Linked DNA regions of Homo sapiens. The protein of the gene in region 2 purifies or fractionates together with the protein of the main gene of each other region. This does not show direct contact. Each region holds a gene or a part of one and is shown on either strand. Other genes may lie near its edges.

Region 1 (3,500 bases), on a different chromosome or scaffold from region 2:
TATTTCCTCCTTTATATTTTTAGAAGATGATTAGCTTAATAGTCAGTGTCAGTTGTGATTTAAGATTCTCTTAACCTTTTCTGGTTTTCTTTTATTATGCTACACCTATGTTATTAAAACAAGTTAAATGTGAATCGTGACTAGTAAACTTTTCTCCTCTTGAACACACCTGGAATCTAAAGGTGACTAGTTTTTTTACTTGTTACAGAGTACTTACACATTTCATTGCATTTTCCCCTAGAATGGGTTGACACAGTGTGGGAACTGGATTTCACAGAGACTGAGCCTTTGGATCCCAGCATAGAAGCAGAGATCATAGAGACTGGATTGGCTGCATTCACAAAACTCTATGAAAGCCTTTTACCCTTTGCTACTGGAGAACATGGATCTATGGAGGTAAAAATATAAAAACAAACTAGCCAAAGTTTGGTGTTAGAAGTAGAAGATGAAAGTCATTATTATAATCTGAAGCTTAGCTTTCTTGGTGTACAGTTCACAGGGAGTACAATATGAGTAACATAAAGAATGTGGTTAATTTATTGGAATATCCTAAGAGCTTTCCTCCAAAAGCTTCAAGGTACTTGTCTGATTTTTTTTTTTTAAGACACGACTGTTTTTTACAATAGCAAATTAAAGGAAAAGTATAAGGCCGGGTGTGGTGTCTTACGTCTGTAATCCCAGCACTTTGAGAGGCTGAGGCTGGCCAGTTGCTTGAGCTCAGGAGTTTGAGACTAGCCTGGGCAACATGGCAAAACCCCATCTCAGAAGGAAAAAAAAAAAGGAAAAATATAAAGGCAAAAACAAGAAAACTAGACCAAGGAAAATGCAAATAACAATTCAGACATGCCTTAACCTTAACTTTAAGAAAATCTGCGACCAGGCATGGTGGCTCATGCCTGTAATCCCAGTACTTTGGGAGGCCGAGGTGGGTGGATCACGAAGTCAGGAGTTCAAGACCAGCCTGACCAAGATGGTGAAACCCCATCTCTACTAAAAATACAAAAATTAGCCGGTTGTGGTGGCGGGCTTCTGTAATCCCAGCTACTCGAGAGGCTGGGGCAGATAATTGCTTGAACCCAGGAGGCGGAGGTTACAGTGAGCCGAGATCACGCCACTGCACTCCAGCCTGGGCGACAGAGCAAGACTCTGTCTCACAAAAAAAGAAAATCTGATATTATTAAACTGAGGAATGACTAGTTGAATTAACAGGTTTGTCCAAACAGTTCCTGTAAATATTGAGTTCTATCCAATGCATAGAAATATAAATTATTATTAATATTTAGGTTGTTAGTTTTCAAAAAAAACCAAAGGGTTGGGAAACAGAACAAAAGCTAATTGGATATTAACATCTCTGAAACATTTAAATGAACAAAAAAAAATTCACTTCCAAGTTTCACATCACAAAATTAAATCATCTAATTAAACATTCCTTCAGCATAACACTAAGCACTGCCTTAAGTACCTGAGTTGACAGAGTGGGGATTACGATACAATCTCCCTAGGTTGAGGTCCTCCCCAGGGACCTCAGGGAGGAAGAGTGGACATTTGAACACTAGCCAAAGTAGGTCTAGCAGCCACATGCAGTTGCAGGGGGTGGAGAGTTCAGTGCCACTGTGCATTTGGGCGCCTGGAAATATTCTACGAACCACACTGTGAAAAATGCTCCAAGAGAGGTGCGGATTTGTTGCATAGGGTGTGAAAAAGGGAGCATGGTAGGGTTGGGAAAGTTCCAGAAAGAAAGTGGCCAGCAGCGAATCTTCACAGATGACTAGCAGAAGCTTGGGTTGTAAGGCAGTCCTAGTGAAGGAGCCACCCAATGGGAACACGCAGGAAGTGTCAAGAGGCATACAGAAAAAGTGTGGTGGAACGGGATGGTAAGGTAGAGTAAGGGTAGGTCACGGGTAGCTTTACGTGAGGTTCAGCAGTGGAGTTTGAACATGTTTGGTAGAGTGTGTATGAGGTTTTGTTCTAAGCGTCCTGCATGTATTAACTCATTTAATCCTCAAGCAGCCTGTGTGAAAGAGGTTACAGTGGGCAATAGATAGGTAACATGAATAGATCTGTTTTAAGCAGACGTTCTTGACAGTAGGTGGACTGAAGTGGGAAAAATTGTGTGCAGGGAGAGCCCTTGGGAGACTGTATTGGTGATCCAGGTGTTATGAGTAATAATGGCATGATCCGGAGTTACAATTTTGGGAACTGGAAAGGAAGACTAAAAACTAGGGACATTTTTGGAATTAGAATTAATAGGGCCTTGTGAACTAGGAAGCCCTTTTGAGATATCTTAAAAACATGGTGTGAAGTGCTAAACTGACTGGGCATAGGGAATTAGAAAAAGAAAGAAGTCAGTGATCCCCAGGGTTTCAAAACTAGGAAGATGATGATATTGTTAACCAAGGTGGGGAATAAGGGAAAAAGAGCAAGGTCAAATGGAGAAACAGTTCTGTTTAGACTTCTGAACTTGAGATTCTGTCAGGAGATCCTTGGGAAGTTTAACAGGTAGTAGAAATGTGAGACCAGGAGAGAGAAGAGAGTTCTTTAAATTGAGGTATGGGTTGAAGCACAGTGATGCATGAGATCACCGAGGGTGAGAAGCAGCCAGGACAGAAATGGAGAGCTGATTGGACGGGGTCTGCAGAGGAGCAGTCACATGTAGGGAGTGCAGGGTCACTGACGCCCAGACTAGACAGCAGCCATGGGATCACATGGGGCCAAGGTGACCCCATATGCAGAGCCCTGGTGAGCAGATGGTTTAGGGTGATCGATCACCCTCGTGTGTGAAGTGGAGGTGCAGGTGGCATTAGGAATGAGGATGTGACACTGTAAAGTTAGGAGATGATTTCTTCCCCCCCCCCCCTTTTTTTTTTTTGAGACCAGGGTCTTGCTCTGTCACCCAGGCTGGAATGCAGTGGCACAGTCAAAGCTTACTGCAGCCTCAACTTATTGGGCTCACATGAGCCTCCCACCTCACCCTCCTGAGTAGCTGGGACTACAGGTGTGTGCCACCACGCCCAGCTAATTTTTTATTTTTTGTGGAGACAAGGTCTTGCTTTGTTGCCCTGGCTGTTCTCAAACTCCTGGGCTCAAGCAGTCCTCCTGCCCTGGCCTCTCAAAGTGCTGGGATTACAGGCATGAGCCATTGTGCCCAGTGGAGATGATTTCTCCCGTAAGTTTTTTAGTTAAGGAAAGGAGAGTGCTCTGCTCACTTGAATTTTGTGGGCCTTTTTTTGTTACGATACTCAAGGATAAACCATATTTAGTTCCTGCTATGTTTAGGTTATTAAAATAACCCATTTCTTCTTCATGTGTTTAGTAGGAGAAGACATGGAATGAAGATAGAATTAATACAATTGTGGTTTCTTTTCTAGGGTTTATCTCCTTTACCTGGGCCATTTCCGAGATCTCTTTCATTTCCTGCTCCCATTGCCTGCAATCTGCAGAACATTTAAATAAAGGGCTCTGATTTCCTCAGTTAGTAATTATTGGTAAAGGAATTTGAG
Region 2 (3,500 bases):
AAGGGGTTGAGCTGGTACTATAGGTGCAAAAATGTCTGTCATTTTTTCCCATTTCAAGGGAAACCTTAAGGCCCTAAGCATGGTTGTGTGCTGTGGCTCAGCTAGTCAGGAGGCAGGGCCTGGAGGGCTGCTGGGAGGGGAAGGGCCTGCCCTGTCCCCAGCAGCCTTTGCCCCCATCCCCAGGCTGGAGAAGCTACGCCACCAGCTCATGCCCATGTACAACTTCGACCCCACGGAGGAACAAGATGAGTTGGAGCAGGAGCTGCTGGAGCATGGGCGGGACGCCGCCTCTGTACAGGCTGCTACTTCTGTGCAGGCCATGCAGGGCAAGGTGGGCACTGACCAGGCTCCCCACCCCGCCTGCAGCATCCTCTGTCCTCCACCCTCACCCTCCCTCCTTTCTCATGCAGCTTTCTAGCACCTGCCTTGTGGTCAGATGGCAGGTATTGGGTATACGGCTTTTTCCAGATTTGTTCAGAAAGTGGTCATATTGCTCTGGGGCCACCCACAAACTCACAGCGCAAGGCCAGGCCAAGGCAGTCCTGGGATACAGCCTGGCTCTGCCCCATAGCCTGCTGATCTTGGGAGCCCCACTGGCATCTCTGAGCCTCAGTGTTCTCTTCCACAATTGAAAATCCTAATTCTTGCCCCATGTGCCCCCACGTACTGGTTAGGAAAGTAGGAAAGGACTAATGGGAGAGACTGTTGGCGGCTAGGACCCCAGGTTCCTCTGCTTCCTGAGGGTCCGTGGTCCTGAGTGGGTTGTGGATGGGGTTAGACTCTTGGACAGCGGTACCTCTGAGTAGGCTGGTGGATTCCCAGTGGCTGACAGACCCAGGCATGTGAAGATCTCAGCCAAACTTGCCTCCTGTGTCCAAAGGGATAGGTACCTGTGTGGCCATCCTGTTGTAACCACTGGGCTGCCTGACCACTTGCCACCATTTCCCCAAATCCCCAAGGGCCAGAGCACCATGAGCAGGCCTGGCCTGCCCCTGACTTATCCAGCCTCTTTGCGTCTTCTTGGGCTCAGAAAGAATCCAGGCTGGAAGTCTGAAGACCCTTTGGTTTTGCCACCAGCTCTGCATCACCTGGGTCAAGATATATTGCCCCCTTGGGATATTCAGGAACTCGCACTGAGAACCTTGGTCCACCCAGCCACTGGGACTTCTGGCCACTTGATACTTGTTTCCCATGTTCCTCCTTGTACCAGCCCCTGTGCTAGGGCCTGGGGATACAGAGTCCAGCCCTCTGATCCCCCACTGGGAAAAGGCAGTGCATGCATAATTAAATCAACACAGTAAGTGCCTCCAAGGTGACAGGGCAAGCTGGGGAGGAGTCATCTGAGCCAAGTCATATTTGTAGGCTGAGCTTGCAGGGAGGGCATTCCAGGCAGAAGCCATTGCTAGTGCCAAGCATAAGCAGGCACCAGGAAGTGAGGGTGGAGGTGACCAGGCCAGTGAGTGCATGGCCTTGCCCATGGTCTCTGATGCCCCTGCCTGTCTTCCTGCAGACTACTCTGCCCTCCCAGGGCCCACTGCAGAGACCCAGCCGGCTGGTGTTTACCGATGTGGCCAATGCCATCCATGCGTGAGTGGCCTGGGACAAGCCTGGACTTCTGATAGAGACCCATCACGGTGCCTACAGAGCTCCCCACTCCCTGATTGTCAAGACCTACTCTGAAGATCTTCCCTGCCAAGACACAAGAGGGCTGAGCCAGGTCCTAGCTGTTCTCCAGACCCACCTGCTGACTTTAGACTCTAAGAGAGGGCCCTAGCCAGGCTGGACTTCTGACCACTGACTTCTCCTGACCTGAGGGCCCTGGCACAGAGGGCATCCCTCATGCTGAGAAGGTCAAGAGCCTCTGCTGGCTTCCTCATCCCCTGTCCAGATCCCTCACATCAGGGTCTGCCCCGCTAATGTGGAGGAAATGAGGGAGATACGGAGTGGGAGGGATTGGGGGAGGAAAGGGGAGGTTTCCCTCTGTTAGGGAGAGACCTGTTTTTTGGAATCTGGAGCCTCCTCTGGGGTGGGGAGAGGAAACCACCCAAGTTATAGGGACAGGGTAGGGCAGCATCTGTTATGGGCCCTGAGAAGCCCAGAGATGGAGCTGAAACTGTCCAGTATGCAAGGATGCCAGGAGAAGGGCAATTCACACCCAGGGTCCATCCATACTACGGAGGGTCCAGGAGGTCTCCCAGCCACCCATCCTTGGCAACCAGATGTTACTGGGGCCAAGCTAGGATGGGAGCTGAGGGGGAAGGAAGTAGGGGAATGGAAGTGGAAGGATGCAGCCCCCCCAGACCTGCCGAGAGGCCTCATGCATGTGCATGAGTGTGCCCATGGGCAGACATGTGCCTGTCCCAGCACAGCGGGCAGAATGAGATTGTCCACACTGGCCCCACCCTCCAAGTCGACCTCTACCCCATGGTATGTAGTGGAGCATCAGGGTAGGCTATCTTCTCTGCCTTCAATCTTCAGGGACTGCAGGGAAGAGGGAAGCACGCACAGCACGGTTCCTCTCTCCACTGCATTGTTTCACTGGGCTCACCTGCTTCTGAAAACGGCTCCCTGTCTTGGGCTCTAATGAGGATCTGGGGTTGGGAGAGGCTGTTGGTCTGAGGGCAGTAATCACAGGCTGCAGGCTAGAGGGGGCAGTTATGACTGCCTGAAAGTGGGTGAGGGATTGCACTTCAGAAAAACATCTAAAAAACTTAGTCTATGTTTGAATTCCCCACCTCCATCCCATCTATGGGAAGAGCCGTTCAGTGTTTAGAGAGTGGGGAGATGGGTCCCTGCACTTGGCCTCTCCATAAGCCTTGGAGGGTCAGGGCTGATACCAGGGGTCCTGGCAAGCCATTGGGCAGAGACAGACCACAAGAGCAGGGCATTTTTTTACGCTGGGCATACATATGCACACAAGCATGCACAGAGGCATGTCCCGTGCCCAGCCTCTCCACCGTCACTGTCCGCTGCTGGCTGGAGGGGATGCAGGGGTAGTGTATGCAGACCTTCCACTGGGCAAATGCCATGTGTCAGGAGGGAAAGGCCTAGGAAGCCCCCATGGGGAAGGTTCTGGATTTATTCCCTCCTCTAAATGCTATAAATACGTTAGCACTTGAGTCGACTGGAGGCTGCCAGGAATTCAGGATGCATACAGCTGTAATTTAACCCAGAGCAGCTCCACGTGAGAGCATTAAAGATGTAATGAAGATGTTTACATGGAGAGTGTGTGAGCCTGTGACGCTTGGGGTGTGGAACCCTAGGAGGGGCAGGATGGGTGAGGGGCTGTGGGGGGCCTGGGGATAGTTGCTTGGATCACAGCTATGAGGTGGCACCCCAGGTTTCTCTTGAGCCGTCTGAGGAAATGCCTCTGGCCCTGACTTCGAGGTTGCCCTGGGGCTTCATTTCCCAACTGTGGATTGGGGTCCCAAGGCCTGTCACCCCCTAGGGTGGAAAGGTCAACTGGACAGGACCTTGTGAGACCGGAGGAGGAAGGGGGC
Region 3 (3,500 bases), on a different chromosome or scaffold from region 2:
GGGTTGTGACTGGTAAGTATTATGTGCAAATTCATGTAACAAAGAGTTTTGTTATAATCAAGCCTTTTCTCTCAGAATGGGAAAAAACACTAACATGAACTGGATTTGTGCTTAAATTATACCCATAAGTAAACAAAAACAAATTTAAAAGGTTATTTCTCTACCCCAAATAAAAGTTTAGGTATATACCTTTAGAATTTTCCTGGCCACTTTGTGTTGGTACTGGACATGTGACACAAGGAGTTAGATATGGGTCCACACAAAGTGAGCTACAGAGGTTTTTAATAATTTTTGAATTGGGACAGGGCGTCCTTGTTGTGCACTGCTGAAGGAGTTTAGCTATGCACTGAGCTGCATAGTTTTGCACTAGTGTATTCTCTTCTTTTTTAATTGTCTCCATTAATGGTTTTATGATAGGATTTAATTTCTCCGGAAGCTGCTGCAAGCTCACAACTGCACAGGCAGCAAAAGTATGCACTCTCAACTGCAACACTTGCCACTCCTGGTTGGTCTCTGTAACTGTCATTTGGACCTGCTGTCGTTTACTATCTAACTGTTGTAACACTTGAGGATTTAAATCGAAAGATGATGTGGCTTCATTAAAAACAGTAGTGACCTATTAAAAAAAAAAGAAATTAAAAATCATTAATCATATCAACCCCAAATAGACTGTAAGCTCCTAAAGGGTAGACAGCAAGCTTTCTGTTTCAATTTTGGTTTCCACAATATGTAATATTGTTTTAGTACTCAGTAAACTAATGTCTAAAACTTCCCAACTAAATTTTATTTTAATCTGACTAAAATTTAACATTAGCATTATATTCTTTAAGAAAGACATTCTCTTGAGAAGAATAAAATTATCTAACCTTTAAATATGTCTAAATGACTTTGAGGAAAATCACATTTAACACCCGCAGAATACTCTGGTGAAACAAGAAAGCTACAGGCAAATATAAACTAACTGTTCATGAAGGAATTCCAAAACTCACAAACTTCTTTTTGGGAAAAATATTCTTTTCAACTCTAAAACTCGTGAAAACTTAAGAGTGGCTGTTTACTAAGTGGCTAAGTGTTGCTAACTGAATCATTCTCTTTCTTTCTTTAACCTCCCTTCTGGTGGAAATGCCCAGGCAATGGAAGAAGGAAAAGAAACAAAACAAAACAAAACAGAACAGAACAAAATGGTGCAGTTATCATTCACTTAATTACCAAGAGCTATCTAAGGCTACAGGACTGTTGTACCAGACTACTTTGCAAGCCCCATTGAAAGACTGTTCAGTCAGTCTTTTTTTTAACAACTTTATTCAGATATAATTTGCATACCATAAAAACTACCCATTTGAAATGTACAATGTATAAGATTTATTTGAAACAGGGTTACAATGCTAAAAGTTTAAAAACATTGTCCTAAATCCACTATGCTCATGTCACTTTTCAATGACTGTAGACAACTGAGGAAAAGCCTCAGTTACCCCCAAATTAATTCAATCATTCAACCAATATTTATTAAAAGATAAATAAGATATAATGTCTTAATATGCTCAAAAAATGCAGAGACTAATGTGGGAGAGATATAAATAATTAAGAAAATGTAACATATAACTGAGGTAAGTGCAAGTTGCTGTGGGAATACAGAGCACTCCTTATTCCTTCTTAGAAGAAGAGATTAGTGGGAGACTTGTCAGAGGAGGATAACACTTATGCTTGGTTTTTAAAGAACAGGCCAATCAGGGATTATAGGGACATCTTGGCAAACAAAGTGAGGTAGGGAGTGGAAAACAGGACACTGTCTGTGGAATTGAAGTTTATCATAGCTTGAGCACAACACACAGAAAAAGAGATGAACTCTGGATAAGCACAGAGGGTTAGGGATGGGGAATTCCTGGCAAAGGAAATAGAAGCTCGGGCCCAGAAGTGAGAATGAGCAGAAGTGAATAAGTGTAGCGTACTTGCGCAAGAAGAAAGCTAACTGGGCGTGAGTGGAGAAAGTTTGAGAAATAATGAGGAGATAAGAGATAGAGCATTTAGAAGAAAGTGATGAAAAGAAGAAAGATAAAAATGAAAAAGCAAGGAAAAGGAAAATAATGTTTTTAAGCAGGAGAGGGATGTTCAGGGTGGCACAAAAAGAGCATTGCTAGTCTAGCACAACATGCAGAATGAAATGGACCAGAGGCTGCCTGGAGCCCTAGAGATGAGTCAGGACCTAGATATAAAGTACTAAGATCTGACTGGGCTCTGATAATGGAAATAGAGAAGAGATTAAACATGAGACTTTCTTTTTTTTTTTGAGACCAAGTCTCACTCTGTCACCCAGGCTGGAGCGCAGTGGCGTGATCTTGGTTCACTGCAAGCTCCGCCTCCTGGGTTCACGCCATTCTCCTGCTTCAGCCTCCCGAGTAGCTGGGACTACAGGCACCCACCACCACGCCCGGCTAATTTTTTGTATTTTTAACAGAGATGGGGTTTCACCATGTTAGCCAGGATGGTCTTGATCTCCTGACCTCATGATCCACCCACCTCGGCCTCCCAAAGTGCTGGGATTACAGGCGTGAGCCACTGCGCCCGGCCTAAACACATGAGACTTTCTGAAAGAAAATGCTGACAAGATTTGTGACTGGAATAAAAAGAGTATCTTTGTCAAAAAAAAAAAAAAAAAAGCCAGTTTTTGTTGTGTTCAGTGTGAAGTGACAGTGAGATATTTAAGTAAAAATGCCTAAAAGAAGAACGTAAGAAAGACTGAGAGTAGACAGCACACAGTACCTGGGTAGGAACTAAATCATGAGAATGGTGCAAGAGACAAAGATCGCAGGGAAATGTCTATATTTGGCAGGTAACAGGAAAACAGGGATTCAATGAAGATACAAAAGGCAGTGGCTCCTTTGAAAACTGCCCTTCCCTCAAAAGTCCCTTACAGAAAAAAAAAAGAAAAAAAGTCTCTCCCAGAGATTCTGATATTTATGCTTATCTTCTAGCCCAAGTCAAAACAACTGAAGAGTAAAAGATCTGAATAAGCAAATCTTAAAGAAGGGGCCATTTGATGAGCTTAAAAAAGGAAAGTTCCCAGAAATAGTAGGCAGGGAACCTAGACTATAAAGAAAATTTGAGATTTAATTCCAGACAGGCAAAAAAGTAGGGAGAGGAGGCAAAAAGGAAAACTTACAGAATAACAACACTCGGGAAAATAACTTTATAAAAGAAGAGAACCCAGGGGGAAAAAAAACAGCAATTTTAGCTTTCTCTCCACAGGTGAGAACAAAAAAATTCAACTATATTATTTTTCAACTAGAAATGGGGATAAGAAATGAAGATTACTATTTTCATGGGGACCAACACAAATGAAGTGACTCAATTTCTGATCCTATAACTCAAAAAAGGAAGAACTCATATATACTACACCTAATCTCATGCACTTACTAAGTACAAAGCTGCTGTAATGAAGCATGGATGCTGGCATAAGGAAAGACAAATACATTGAACAAATGGCCCAGATACACAGCATA
Region 4 (3,500 bases), on a different chromosome or scaffold from region 2:
CTGGCCCATAGGATACAATACAATACAATATTTGATGAGCAAATGTGTTTATTATACATTCTGTTATGTTAGTTACGATAGTATATTACAGTTTGCCTTATACTGCAATTTATTTAAGAGCAAGGCATATGTATAACTCACTTCTATGCCCCTTACCCAATACAATGTTATATAGTAGGTTCTCAATAAATTTTAGCCAAATTAAAATTTTTAGTCTTCAGTCTCAAATATGGCTAGCTTTATTACATAGTCAGTATACTTTATTAAAGCATTGACTAACTGAACTTGAATGGAACTAATAATTTTTAACTCTGAAAAGCATGGAACATGTGGGACAAATATGGAGAGGAGAGAGCTAGAAAAGATCTAATTCTGTATGTAGGAAATGCAGAAGTCTCAGCCTAACCCCCAAATTACGCATTTTCAGGTGAGATCCAAACCCACACAGCAAAAGCTTAGAGCATTGAACTAAAATTTGAATCACTGCTGCAAGTCTCAGGATTAACCTCTGGATAAAACATGCATGGAAAAAAAACCGAAACCAACAAGTAAAGGCCTAGAGAACTGACGTGAGATTGGAAAAATCTGTAAAAGTCTCAGACTAATCCGTAAACTAGGTATGTGTAAGACAGCCTCAAAACAGCATAACAAAGGCTTAGAGAATGTGACTGAGACTTGGTCAACTGTCTGCTCGGACACTAAGACAGAACTTATGGTCTGATTTTAACTGGGCTTGACTGCTAACAACAAACATCAACATCCTTAAGATTTTAACAAGACACACAGTTTACACAACATAGCATGCACAACATCTAAGGTGCAATCTCAAATTACTCAACATACAAAGAATCAGGAAAATTGAACAACTCTCAGGAGAAAAGACAAGCCACCTCTGAGATAATCCAGATGCTCAAACTATCAAGCAAAACTTTAAAGCAGCAATTATAACCATGTTCCAACGGTGACAGAAAACACAATGGAATGAATCAAAAGACAGAAATTCTCAGCAGAGAAACCATAAAAAAGCACCAAATGAAAAATTTTCAATTGAAAATTATAATAACTGAAACTTCCGGGTTGAATAGCAGAATGGAGATGACAGGGAAAAAATCAGTGAATTTGAAGATTGATAGAAATTATCCAATTTGAAGAAGGGAAAAAGACAGCAATTAAAATGCATGTTATAGAACCTTGGAGACCTATAGATCTAACGTGTCATTGGTGGTCCAGATGGAAAAGAAAAAGACACTGATGGAGAAAAAAAAGTTTTAAAATTCTATATCTAGACAGAATGAATGAAGGCATTTTCAAGTCAAGGAAAAGTAAAGAAATTCATTGCCAATAGACTTCCTCTAGAAACATTTTAAAAGAAGTTCTTCAGAAGGTAAACTGGAACAACAAGAACAGAAAACCCATAGTTCTAAAACATCCTTTTGTTTTCAAAATTTTTAGTGTACCTTTTAAAATTGTTTTAAACTCATGTAACAGCCTCTCATCTTTCTGTAATTATACTTCTATAACTGTTATATTTATTGCCAGTCTTTTTTTAATCAGAATTAGAAATGCTTCTCTTCATGTATCTGAAGATGTCACAAAAGCTGCTTTTAAACCCAAATTTTCACAAAAGCTCTTATTAGCTTACTAGGATTTATTTTTCCCCACATTTTTTGGGGGGCCTCCCAAAGCACTGGGATTACAGGTGTGAGCCACCACGTCCAGCCACACATGCTTATTAATCAATCTCCAAATCTGTGTATGAATTTCAGTTAAAAATTTCCAGCCCTTAATAATATAGTGAAAGAAATACTGGGAAGTTCTGGGTAACCAAAAAATAAGTTTTAAGACAAAGAAAAATGACAGATATAGTTAACTTCAGTTGTAAGCACTGGAAAGAATCTATGACAAATATCTGAAATTGCATCTATGTGAAATGCCTCACAGTATCTTTGAGTCTTCAAGCACAGTCACATTTCTAATGAGGTTTGGTTTACAGTAATACTCAGTTCCACAGCACACATTAAACAGAAAGCAGAAGCATGAGGAGAAGTTAGGAAGGAATTCACCTAAAATTCAAACTGTGTGCAGATAATCTATCTACTCACTAGACAGCATTCGTACAGTTGAGAAAGTGGAAGATTGCTGCTCTGAAAAAAACAAAGGGAGTTTCTGGTTTTAAAATGGGTGTCTACCCTCAAACACCAACATGATCTAGAATGCCCCTTAAAGAGACAGGGTTTGTGGTGTTACCTTTTTTTCTTTTCTTTTCTGTGTGATTCTTATTTTTAAAAATTTTTATTTAATTTTAGAGATGGAGTCCCGCTATGGTGCCCAGACTGAAATCAAACTCCTGGGCTTAAGGGATCTTTCTGCCTAAGCCTCCTGAGTAGCTGGGACAACAGTTGCATGCTACTAACTCTTAATTAAAAGAGATTAAGAAAAAAAAAAACCCCTTCAATTTGAAACATAGTAATATAAAACCAAATGAATTATGATTAGTGTTTTTATTTCTGCAAAGCTATTAAATAAGGAATAATGATATAACCAAATATCAGCTGATTTAGGAATAAATGACTTATTTTGTCAGGAAAATATAAACATGCCACTATTTTCAATTACAGTTTGGCCACCTTGCTACCATCACTTTGACAGGCTATCTTAACATCTTTTAAATGTTAATTTCAATGAATATACATTATCTCTGTGGAAGTCATTCAAATATAAGAATAAACAACCATAGGAAATAATGACTAATAGGCAATGGCAACAAATAACTAACTGGAGCTACAACTTGACATATGCTCGTAAAAGATCAGAGAGGTCTGAAGGCTGACTGCAGAAGAAATTTCTCCTTTGTCTCACGTATATATCTTGTTGGGGCAATGAGAACTGCTGAGGGGGAAAAAAGCATTAAAATCTATCTGTAGGAGTTGGGTTAATCTGCAAAGGCAAGGTCACAGTTAAATAAAATTTCACTGAATTATACCACAGTCAGAAAAATTTATAACTAAAAGTTTAGTTATAAAAGTCCCTTAGAGTGAGAGAAGGGAGAATGAGTGGTAAGTAGTAAAAAAACAAAAACAATGATAGAAGAAAACAGAATGAAAGGAAACTACGTATACATAGTGAATTTCTGGGATAGCTTGATCACTCTTGATATTTTGTGAGAATCCTCGACAATTACTTTGATGCACATAGGAAAATACAAGCATGGAGCTCTGTTGTACATCTTAAATATTCCTCAGCATGTAATAGTTTCAGAACTCATCTTTTTGTGGATTTCACAAAAAGAAAACTCATGGCATTTGTAAACTGAATCATGAAAAAATCTGTTTTAAGCCATGTTTTGTTTATATGTATAAAGGTAAATGCAGTTCATTTAATATACACTCATTTGAAGAACAATGATTTGGGATAAAAAATGACTTTCTCAGGTATTTTAGTGTGATGAATATTTCTTTAAAGAGGACACATTGTGTGTATGTAATAGGATGGCAACCAAT
Region 5 (3,500 bases), on a different chromosome or scaffold from region 2:
CTGCTCAACTCATGGTTTTAGGATTAAATTTGTTTGGTAACAGTATGGATAGTAAGGAGAAATAATGAGGGAAAGACATATTTTAAGGCTACTGTGCAATGATGTGGTGAGCACCAACCATTAAGAATCGAATAATGGGTAGAATATAAGGTGAATCAGATTTTTTAAAAAGAAGCATACTTTAGAAATTAATAATTAGTGCAGCTCCCTTGTTTAACAGATGCACCCTTTCGGGCCCCAAAGGGGAAGTGGCTTGTCCCCACAGAGTCAGTTAATAGAAGAGGTGGGGCTAGTACTCAGGCCCTTTTGCTTGAAGTCCTGCACTCTTTCGGGCTCTCTTTCAAAGGAAAAAGGAATGGGACACAGTAATGGGTTAAAGGGAAGGAAGAAGAGTAAAAAAACTGGGTGAAGATTGTCAGCTATTATATAGTTAATCCTTTTTATTTCTAAAAACTGAGTACCTTATTTTAAATTATATACATTTCTATTTGCTGCACAGGACATTTCAGTGTCATTGTCTTCTTTAAAAATGGGAAAAACAGAATAAAATCTAATTGATTAGAAAAGAAAGAAATGACTTAAGTTTTTTTATATTTGTAGTTTGGGGATAGCAATGGTTTTCTCTTAATGCCTTCCTGTCCCAGGGGCAGGGAGTAGAGTGTTGAACAGAACGTGGTGTTTACATTCTAGTGGGTCTTAGTCCAAGCCTCTCATTTTACAAGAAAAGACTGTCCAAGGTCATGTAGCTAGTTAGGTAAATCAGTTTGAGGCCCTGCTGTAATTAGGGTTTGGTTTAAAAATTAATATTTGAACAGTGAAAGCTGTTAACTTCCGGTTCAGTAGAAGCAAGGAGAATGCAGATAAAAAAGACCCAGATATCTAGCAAAACACACAACTGCATAGAAAGCCACCTTGTTAATATCCTCCAATTAAGTAAAGATAGTGTTTTGCAGAAGAGATGTGTTTGGTTCTCACTAGTATTGTTGGATGTAAATGTTCTTGGTCTCTGGGTCTGGAAGGGACTTTGAGAAGCTGTCCAGTTTTGATTTTGAATAGCATTACTTCAAAATCATTCCACGGCACATAAGAGTCTGTTCTATTATTAAAGAGAGTGAGCTCTCACAGCTGCTCTAAATAACTTATTCTGATTTTTAACCACCCCCCTGTCAGAATTCTTCACTCTTTACTGCATGGCTAATGTAAACTCTGGCCTGCCAAGTGCGTACCAATTGGTTCTGTTCTCTACACAACAGGAAGAGTTGGGCCTTTGTAATCTCTCCAGGGGATCAGTAGAAATCTGAACCAGGTATCCTGTGCATCTCACAGAACTTAACAATTATGAAATGTACCTTATCCATAAGGAATACCATCAAACATTAATACTATAATGAATACCTTATTCATTAAGTTTGTCTTTAGAAAATACTAAAATGGAAGTTTTTGGAAGGAGATTTCATATTAACTGAGGAAATACCTTTCTTAGCTGTCTAGTGCTGTTAATTAATATTCCCAGAAGTGACATTTAATACTGTGATCTGATAAACATTGTGAACTCCTTGTTTTGTTCCTGTTTTAATGTGGATGTTCTTTCTGGAGGTATTGTTTTGTCAGGAGTACTTTCAAGATTTCATTGCTTTTTTGTTTTTTTAAGTTTAGAGCCCCAAAGTTGGTCCTGCTGTTAATATATCTAAGTCACATAAAAATAAGAAGCATATTAATTTGTAGTTCCTTAACTTACCTCATTCCTATTTCTCTTGTTCCCCTTTGGTAGTAAGTGGTAATTATAAATGGATTAAAATTGTAATACTGTCAATGTGTATAATTAAGGTTTATGGTAAAATTCATGTTATTCTTTTCCTAAAATACAACAACCCTAGTATGAGTGTGGAGTAAATATCAAATGAGTAGCTTTTAGTTAACTATTAGTGATTTGGTACATGACCTGTGGTTTATGAATTACTGTGATTTGGTAAATAAAAAAAGGCCCTTTAAAGGCTTTAGAGTAAAAAAATGAAATAATTTCCCAAATCAGTTGAAAGTAGATGAAATAAAAATAGGGAATTAAAGATGAATCAGCATGGCCTAATTTTTAAATAAGAATTTCTTTCTGATCCAGTATATGTATATATATCTCCTTTGGGAATTAGGTCTGTGAGTTAATCTAATGGTTGGAGTCTCACCTTGTAATTACCTGCCCATTCACTTTTAGAATGAATGTAATTTGGCATGAAGAGAGTACCTTTCGTGTGTCTGTGAGTGTGGTTTTAGTGAAATCATAGTAGGTTGTGACAGCTTTATACAGCATAATAATATTGTTAGCTTAAATTTTGAAAACAATTTCAATGTTAGAAAAGCAAATGTTGTAATGTTTTAGCAATTTGAGGAAAAGGTTTCAACATTAATAGAAAAATATGTCCATATACTTAAGTATTTTTATACTTACTGCCTACAATATCATATACCATTTACTTGATCTGAGTGTGAAGGAGGGCGTTTTTTACTTTTAATAAGAAAATGTTAAAAAAGATTTAGTAGAATCTGAAATCTGGAGTTCAGTTTTCCTGGAAATTTTCCTTATATGGAACCACAGAGAGAAATAAGAAGTAAACACATAAGATGGAACCATTTCAGAACACCTTCGTACATGCATTAAAGCTCATGCACTCCACTCACTAAGCGCTCTAAGTGCACTAAAGCTCATGCATTTCTTTCATTTGTGTTTAAACTTAACAAAAAATACAGTTCAAACAAGTTTCAATATTAGGTTTCCTATCAAATTAGAATGGTTTTATGGCAATCTAAACACAAGGTGATGAGCTCTTAGAGACAAGCTCATTTGACAATAGTGAGAAGTGACAGTAGCAGCTTAGTGGTCAAGGAGGGAACAGGAAAGCTTTAAAAGCCGACTCAACCAAATCACACTAGCCGATTTGTGTAGGGTGATTTGAAACAGCTTTATTATGTGTTTCATGGCCCTGAGAGGATAACTGTGTTTTCAATGATGTCACAGTCAAGAAGAGGTTCCAGTGTGGTCTGCTTAAGAAGGGTCAGGAATGTTTAATGTATTTTAGAAAGGTTTTCCTTTTAAAAAGAAAAAAAAAGAAGAAGTTGGATGGATAAAGAAGTAGGCTTCAGACACCTGGAAAATTCAGATGTGAGGACATTTCAGTCATGATACTAGATTGCAGAGGTACGACTAAGAGAGTTGTGCTTCATTTTCAAAAGAGTAAATGTTTTTTTCCTCCCTTTTTTTTCTAGGGAGTTTTACTTCCTTTTTTAAGCTTGTATTTTTCATTTTCTTTATCATAGGAATTTTTATTGTTTAGTGTTATCACATTTTTCAGTCACAACTGACATAAAAATTTTCGTTAAGCTCATATTGATAGTAGGTGACATTATTGGGTTTTTTTTGTTTTGTTTTGTTTTTTTAAGATGGAGTTTTGCTCTTTCACCCAGGCTGGAGTGCAGTGGTGTGATCTTGGCTCACTGCAACGTCCGCC
Region 6 (3,500 bases), on a different chromosome or scaffold from region 2:
TGTGTTGACTGCATTAGGTCAGGTGTGGAATTTTCCACTTATGGCACCATTTCAACACGTAAAAAGTTTCCGATCTTAGAGCATTTTGGATTTCAGATTTTCAGATTAGAGATGCTCAACCTGTATATGCTTAGGAAATACTTAAAGAGTTAATACTCAAGTCACAGGCAGTGTAGGTCAAGAAGTCCCAAAGGAATGTCTACCTTCATTACACTCATCAGCATGCTTGCTCCCCATCTCCTCCTTCTTTGGGGTAGTGCCTTCATTCCCTGGCTTCCTGGTGATATCATCCCTTCTTAAGGCCCCAGACCAGAAAAATGGGTCTGGGTGTCCAACTCTCAAGTCCAGCAGACTATACTTACACTCAGCCTGGACTATATCCAGAACAGCCCAGATAGTTCTTCCTGTTGTTAATTACAATTTTTTTTTTTTAATTTTTTTTTTATTGATAATTCTTGGGTGTTTCTCACAGAGGGGGATTTGGCAGGGTCATGGGACAACAGTGGAGGGAAGGTCAGCAGATAAACAAGTGAACAAAGGTCTCTGGTTTTCCTAGGCAGAGGACCCTGCGGCCTTCCGCAGTGTTTGTGTCCCTGATTACTTGAGATTAGGGAGTGGTGATGACTCTTAACGAGCATGCTGCCTTCAAGCATCTGTTTAACAAAGCACATCTTGCACCGCCCTTAATCCATTTAACCCTGAGTGGACACAGCACATGTTTCAGAGAGCACAGGGTTGGGGGTAAGGTCACAGATCAACAGGATCCCAAGGCAGAGGAATTTTTCTTAGTGCAGAACAAAATGAAAAGTCTCCCATGTCTACTTCTTTCTACACAGACACGGCAACCATCCGATTTCTCAATCTTTTCCCCACCTTTCCCGCCTTTCTATTCCACAAAGCCGCCATTGTCATCCTGGCCCGTTCTCAATGAGCTGTTGGGCACACCTCCCAGACGGGGTGGTGGCCGGGCAGAGGGGCTCCTCACTTCCCAGTAGGGGCGGCCGGGGCGGCTGGCCGGGCCGGGGGGCTGACCCCCCCCACACTCCCTCCCGGACGGGGCGGCTGGCCGGGCGGGGGGCTGACCCCCCCACCTCCCTCCCGGATGGCGGCTGGCCGGGCAGAGGGGCTCCTCACTTCCCAGTAGGGGCGGCCGGGCAGAGGCGCCCCTCACCTCCCGGACGGGGCGGCTGGCCGGGCGGGGGGGCTGATCCCCCCCCACCTCCCTCCCGGACGGGGCGGCTGGCCGGGCGGGGGGCCGACCCCCCCACCTCCCTCCCGGACGGGGCGGCTGGCCGGGCGGGGGGCCGACCCCCCCACCTCCCTCCCGGACGGGGTGGCTGGCCGGGCTGAGGGGCTCCTCACTTCCCAGTAGGGGTGGCTGGGCAGAGGCGCCCCTCACCTCCCGGACGGGGGGGCTGGCCGGGCGGGGGGCTGACCCCCCCACCTCCCTCCCGGACGGCACGGCTGGCCAGGCGGGGGGCTGACCCCCCCACCTCCCTCCCGGACGGCACGGCTGGCCGGGCGGGGGGGCTGACCGCCCACCTCCCTCCCGGATGGGGCGGCTGGCCGGGCGGGGGGCTGACCCCCCCCCACCTCCCTCCCGGACGGGGTGGCTGCCGGGCGGAGACGCTCCTCACTTCCCAGATGGGGTGGCTGCCGGGCAGAGAGGCTCCTCACTTCTCAGACGGGGCAGCTGCCGGGCGGAGGGGCTCCTCACTTCTCAGACGGGGTGGTTGCCAGGCAGAGGGTCTCCTCACTTCTCAGACGGGGTGGCCGGGCAGAGACGCTCCTCACCTCCCAGACGGGGTCTCGGCCGGGCAGAGGCGCTCCTCACATCCCAGATGGGGCGGCGGGGCAGAGGCGCTCCCCACATCTCAGACGATGGGCGGCCGGGCAGAGACGCTCCTCACTTCCTAGATGTGATGGCGGCTGGGAAGAGGCGCTCCTCACTTCCTAGATGGGATGGCGGCCGGGCGGAGACGCTCCTCACTTTCCAGACTGGGCAGCCAGGCAGAGGGGCTCCTCACATCCCAGACGATGGGCGGCCAGGCAGAGACACTCCTCACTTCCCAGACGGGGTGGCGGCCGGGCAGAGGCTGCAATCTCGGCACTTTGGGAGGCCAAGGCAGGCGGCTGCTCCTTGCCCTCGGGCCCCGCGGGGCCCGTCCGCTCCTCCAGCCGCTGCCTCCCGGGCGGCCGTTAATTACAATTTTAAGAGCAGATTTCTGAGCCATATTTCTGACTGTGCCAAATAAATGAAATTCCTTTTGAATGTAATGCTGTCCTCTAGCAGCAGTGGGTAGGAAGGATAGGGAAATGGTACCTGGAGATGATAGTACTGTGCTCTTATTATTATTAGATTGTTATGAGATTCGGTTTTTAGACATTGAAACAGAGATGACACAGAGGTTGAAGATCCCAGCTGCCCAGGGTTTCCCCCACTGCTTTATAAAGATACTGCCTGGCTGGGCTCAGTGGCTCCCACCTGTAATCCCAGCACTTTGGGAGGCCGAGGCGGGCAGATCACCTGAGGTCAGGAGTTTGAGACCAGCCTGGGCAACATGGTGAAACCCTGTCTCTACTAAAAATACAAAAATTAGCTGGGTGTGGTGGCGTGTGCCTGTATTTCCAGCTACTCTGGAGGCTGAGACAGGAGAATTACTTGTACCGGGGAGGCGAAGGTTGCAGTGAGCCAATATTGTGCCACTGCACTCCAGCCTGGGTGACCGAGGGAGATTCTGTCTCCAAAAAAATAAAAAAATAAAAAGATGCCTCCTGGTGAGCTGGGAATTCTGCAGTGTCTGAGTTAAGAGTAGCGGTATGGCCGGGCACGGTGGCTCACGCTGTAATCCCAGCACTTTGGGAGGCTGAGGCGAGCAGATCACGAGGTCAGGAGTTCGAAACCAGCCTGTCCAGCATGGCAAAACCCTGTCTCTACTAAATATACAAAAATTAGCCAGGCGTGGTGGCATGCTCCTGTAATCCCAGCTACTCAGGAGGCTGAGGCAGGAGAATCACTTGAACCCTGGAGGTGGAGGTTGCAGTGAGCCGAGATCGCACCACTGCACTCCTGCCTGGGCGACAGAGCGAGACTCCATCTCAAAAAAAAAAAAAAAAAAACAGTAGAGGTTTGTCTGCAGCCCCAGATGGTGGCCTCCCTGGGGTCCCATCATGTTGGAGCCCAAGTCCAGTCCCCATTTTGCCCCCTGTGACAGACTTTGAAACAATTTGATGTGTTACATAAATACTCTATATTTTTAAATCTCGAATTATTGCAAGTCTATGCAAATTTTCAATTTCAAATAAATTTTTCTGTTACCTGAATGTTTTACATATGCATTATGTTTATGTTAGTTTTCTAGAAGTCAGCAGAGTTCTCTGAGTTATAATGAGATGATAAATATAAACGGTGTTTTATTAGCTATAAATGCGTATCACTTAAATGCTGTCTGGTAAGCCAATCCAGGATAAACTTGTTAACATCTTGGGTACAGTTGTCA
Region 7 (3,918 bases), on a different chromosome or scaffold from region 2:
GTTGCCAATGTGCCAGTATGAAGAGGTGGGGCCTTTAAGAGGTGATTAGGCCAAGAGAGTTCCTCCCTAATGAATAAAATTAGGTCCCATTACAAAGGGGCTTGAAGGAGGGAGTTGATTCTCTCTCGCCACCATCTGGTGATGGCTTGCTTGCCTCTTCCACATGATGGAAGTCAAAGGGCAGCCTCCAGAAATGAAAGAAGTAAGTTTCTGTTCTTCAGTCTCAGGTATTCTAATAGCACAGAGTAAGATAGTTGAATTAAATAGAACAGACTAAGATAGTTAACATAAATAGATCCATTTTCTCATTTTTTAAAAAAAAGTACAGTAAATAATATGGTGAAGTCTACCCCAATATCCCTAGGGTGGTTGTGGTTAGGGCTATAACGTAGTATCAATATGAAGATATTACAGCATGTATTTAAAAGCAATTGACTATTAGGTATCAGACTTAGTGTTATGATACATTTGTCTAATGAAATGAAATCTGTTTTCAGAAATAATCTTTAAATACAATGGAATTTATTGAGCATCTACTATTATATTTCATCCATCACTTTTAAATTTTTTCTTTGGGAGGAACACTTATAAACTCATGATATGGATAACAGACCTGTGGAAATTAATGTAAGCCCTAAGCAGCTTAGTTAGACATTGAATCTAGGTCTGCCTCTACCCTGCAGTCTACCAGTTCAAGTAGCTTTACCAGGTCAGTCCTTAGAAATAACCATAACATCCAGGGCAGTGCAGTTATAAACAGGTGTACAAATAAGAAGTTCTACTACTCAATACATCTTGGGCTTTCTTAAAGGTGTATTTGAAGCCTAAGATTAGGCAGAAATGAACATTATCAAAACAAGAACAAAACTGCTCACTACTGTGGGAATAAAAATGTTTAGCAGATCCTATTTGCTTTTGTTCATTCATCATCTCTGGGAAACATCAATGACTTACCTCAGTTCACTCTCATGCTATATATTAAAAATAATTTACAGGGACACTCAGTAGGAGGTTGAATTATACGCCAGACTGAGACAGGATGCTGCTGGGGGTGCTGTATGGAATTTCCCAGCAAAAGATTCTTTCATTAGTTTCACCAAATATACCATTTCCACTTAGTTTTAAAAGAAAGTCAAACTGAACTGCCATTTGAGATTACATAGAATGCACAAGACTCAATCTGAGACCCTATGTTTAAAAAAACAAAACTGTTTTATAATCTAATCAGCCTGTCAAAGGCATCACTCATAAGCAACCGAATTGTATTTTTGGAGAGCACCATTAAAGATGTCTTTTAAAAAACAGTTATAGATGTGTATTTATTTGGGACCTTTGAAATCATCTGTGGGTCTCAAATGACAGATGATTAGCCTGTGTGTATGGCCCCACACTTGGTAATGAAAGAAACAAAAATTCAAAATACACTCTAATTGGTTTTCTTAAACAACTTTTCTTTATCCACCTTTGGAGTGGAATAAATCTCAATATAAGCTAAATAACAACATTACAAATCAAAGAATATTCAAAGCAAATTCAGGTTAAAAATGAACATTTTAAAGATGCATTTTCTTTAAAAATTAACTTTTCACTTCATATGTTTACAAGATTTAACACTGGGCAAAGGGTGGATCTATCTAGCACACAGTAATATGGTAATTCACCACTTTCCCTGAAAGGCCAAAAAGAATGACTTGCTAAAAGTATTTACTAAATATGCACCAAAGATAATGACTTAACTAGTAACTGTGAAACTGTTTCTAAGACTGTGGGCTGAGATAAATATTATAAAATATAGACAAAATTTTTATATTTCTAATACTGGATATTCTGTGAGTACCACGGGTTCTCCCAGAAGGTGATGCAAATCTTGATTTTTATCTGTACAGATGTCTTCATTTTTTTAAATTTAAAATTATTTTAGGACCGTGTAATGTCCCCAGTGTCAATCTTCCTATAATGGTAAACAAACTAGCACCATTTCAATGCATTTCATAAAAGAGTCTAGCTAAATACCCATGAACAAATCACACATGGTCAAAACAAAAATGTAATAAAAATATTTAGTGAAAAGACACATTTTAACTCCCATTTATGAATTTTAAAAATACAAATAAAATTTTATCAACCTGATATTCAGCCTATAACTGGCTCAATACATAGCCTTATTTCCTAAAATCATATTGCAGCATCTTCTGAAAAACTAAATGCAATTTTATACCTTCATTAGTTATGTTAATAGAGGTAAATATTTAAACAGTACACTCATCCCTGGGTCTTTAAATAAAACTGAAAAGTCTTAGTGTAAGTTTAAAATTTTAATATTTATAAATTTAAAAAATTTTACACGTGCTGAGTGGTAGCAGTGCTAACATTTTTGTGACCATTAAACCACAAACTCACTGCATAGAGCTTCTTTCTTTGTACAGATAATCAAATCACAATACCAACATTTGCAATTTGTAATAATTTTATGTGGTAAAAGACACCACACCAGGAAGCCTGGGCTCAGAAAACACTTGAGGTCAGATCCCTAGTAGGTACATAGTGCAGATGCAGTATATAATTTCAGGCTAGGAAAATTAGCTACTAGTATGTATCTGACAGTTCCTAATAGCTAAGAGGCCTAAGAATGCAGACGGGGAGAAAAAAAACCAAAACCAAAAAAAAAGACACCTCTCCAATTGCTGGGAGGGCCTGGGAATAGGTGAAGATCAAACCACAGTGGGAGAGGAGGGTAAAGATGTGAGCTTCAAGCGGGTAATGGGCAAGCCACACCTCCCAGTTCCTAGGAGGGAATCGCCACGGCCGACTTCAGCATTCTCGTCTTTACTAAGACTTACCCATAGAGAACTACAGCAGGAAACCGATTTCTTCATTCATTCTCTTTAAAAAGTATGAATGCCCAGTATTAAGCTTCTATTTTTATTTGAACCAAACATATTCTTTGGTTAACTATGTCATGGGTTCTCACTATAATCAACAAAGCATACTTCATATATTTTATATCTAAATGAAAATATGCTTAAAATTCAACTGGAACCATGGCATTTCACATCAATTTGAGCTCAGCAATATGCCTAATTTGGACATTTTAATTTTAGAAAACCAATTTTTAAAAATTCTTAAATGCAGTGTTTTCAGAACATAGTTACCAAGTCAGAGAATAACCACTTATATTTTAAAAAGATTAAAACATTATTATATCCTCAAATCAACAATGTTTTTTTGTGGGAAAGCTTACAGAAAATTATAATGTTAAACCTCATAGCCAAATCAGTTCCTTATTCTCTGGTTTTAGAAAACACAAACAAACCTTAAGAAGTACCGAGGTTCCTTCTGACTTAAAAGGTTAATGTTTTATTCAGGAACCAATAACAATAATTCCTCATCAAAGACAGCTAACTTAGTAAGGTCAATTGACAACCACCTCTAACAACAGAGGTGGCAAACAGATAAAAATTGTTTAACAGAGAAAAATATTATTTCAGGGTTCAGAATGATGTTGAATACTAGGAGACTCAAACTTGTAATCCTTGAAACTGACAGCTAGTTCCCTTCAATACTTTAGGGGTTCATAGAAGTATTAACAGAAATGGGAAACATGGTGATATTACAACTATAAAGACTTGACATTTTTGTTAAAAGAGAAAGTTCAAAGACAGTTAAGGGGAGTGTTAAATAATGCTGACTGGGGGGAAATGATATAGATACTTGCTTTTCAAATGAAAATCATGGACAAGTGGTAGTAACCATCCCATCTGAACAGAGTAATGTAATATAATTAGATACACAGTTTACAACGAAATAAGACTAAATTCTTAAAATTAGTTTGAAAAAAACCTGCAGTTTGTTTACATTAAAAGTCATACTTTACACCAGACAAAAACTCAATGCAGTGATGTTAACATGCTACTGTCT

The links.
Region 1: the proteins of C3orf18 (region 2) and NCAPD3 purify together in Homo sapiens (affinity purification with mass spectrometry; one large-scale study listed by BioGRID and IntAct). This does not show direct contact.
Region 3: the proteins of C3orf18 (region 2) and BTAF1 purify together in Homo sapiens (affinity purification with mass spectrometry; one large-scale study listed by BioGRID and IntAct). This does not show direct contact.
Region 4: the proteins of C3orf18 (region 2) and PRMT3 purify together in Homo sapiens (affinity purification with mass spectrometry; one large-scale study listed by BioGRID and IntAct). This does not show direct contact.
Region 5: the proteins of C3orf18 (region 2) and USP24 purify together in Homo sapiens (affinity purification with mass spectrometry; one large-scale study listed by BioGRID and IntAct). This does not show direct contact.
Region 6: the proteins of C3orf18 (region 2) and THADA purify together in Homo sapiens (affinity purification with mass spectrometry; one large-scale study listed by BioGRID and IntAct). This does not show direct contact.
Region 7: the proteins of C3orf18 (region 2) and XPO4 purify together in Homo sapiens (co-immunoprecipitation; 2 studies listed by BioGRID and IntAct, with this or other methods). This does not show direct contact.

What each region holds. Positions count from the first base shown.
Region 1 is NC_000011.10:134,217,468-134,220,967, reverse strand, and holds part of NCAPD3 (condensin-2 complex subunit D3), read left to right. Parts: intron 1-241; coding exon 242-396; intron 397-476; exon of another isoform or gene 477-577; intron 578-3,500.
Region 2 is NC_000003.12:50,557,748-50,561,247, reverse strand, and holds the end of C3orf18 (uncharacterized protein C3orf18), read left to right. Parts: intron 1-183; coding exon 184-331; intron 332-1,510; coding exon 1,511-1,591; 3' UTR 1,592-2,101; coding exon of another isoform or gene 2,102-2,584; 3' UTR 2,585-3,223; downstream 3,224-3,500.
Region 3 is NC_000010.11:91,986,270-91,989,769, reverse strand, and holds part of BTAF1 (TATA-binding protein-associated factor 172), read right to left. Parts: intron 617-3,500; coding exon 190-616; intron 1-189. UniProt on the Homo sapiens protein: Regulates transcription in association with TATA binding protein (TBP). Removes TBP from the TATA box in an ATP-dependent manner.
Region 4 is NC_000011.10:20,488,716-20,492,215, reverse strand, and holds part of PRMT3 (protein arginine N-methyltransferase 3), read right to left. Parts: intron 1-3,500. UniProt on the Homo sapiens protein: Protein-arginine N-methyltransferase that catalyzes both the monomethylation and asymmetric dimethylation of the guanidino nitrogens of arginine residues in target proteins, and therefore falls into the group of type I methyltransferases.
Region 5 is NC_000001.11:55,208,865-55,212,364, reverse strand, and holds part of USP24 (ubiquitin carboxyl-terminal hydrolase 24), read left to right. Parts: intron 1-3,500. UniProt on the Homo sapiens protein: Ubiquitin-specific protease that regulates cell survival in various contexts through modulating the protein stability of some of its substrates including DDB2, MCL1 or TP53.
Region 6 is NC_000002.12:43,295,539-43,299,038, reverse strand, and holds part of THADA (tRNA (32-2'-O)-methyltransferase regulator THADA), read left to right. Parts: intron 1-3,500. UniProt on the Homo sapiens protein: Together with methyltransferase FTSJ1, methylates the 2'-O-ribose of nucleotides at position 32 of the anticodon loop of substrate tRNAs.
Region 7 is NC_000013.11:20,776,829-20,780,746, forward strand, and holds the end of XPO4 (exportin-4), read right to left. Parts: 3' UTR 501-3,918; downstream 1-500. UniProt on the Homo sapiens protein: Mediates the nuclear export of proteins (cargos), such as EIF5A, SMAD3 and isoform M2 of PKM (PKM2). In the nucleus binds cooperatively to its cargo and to the GTPase Ran in its active GTP-bound form.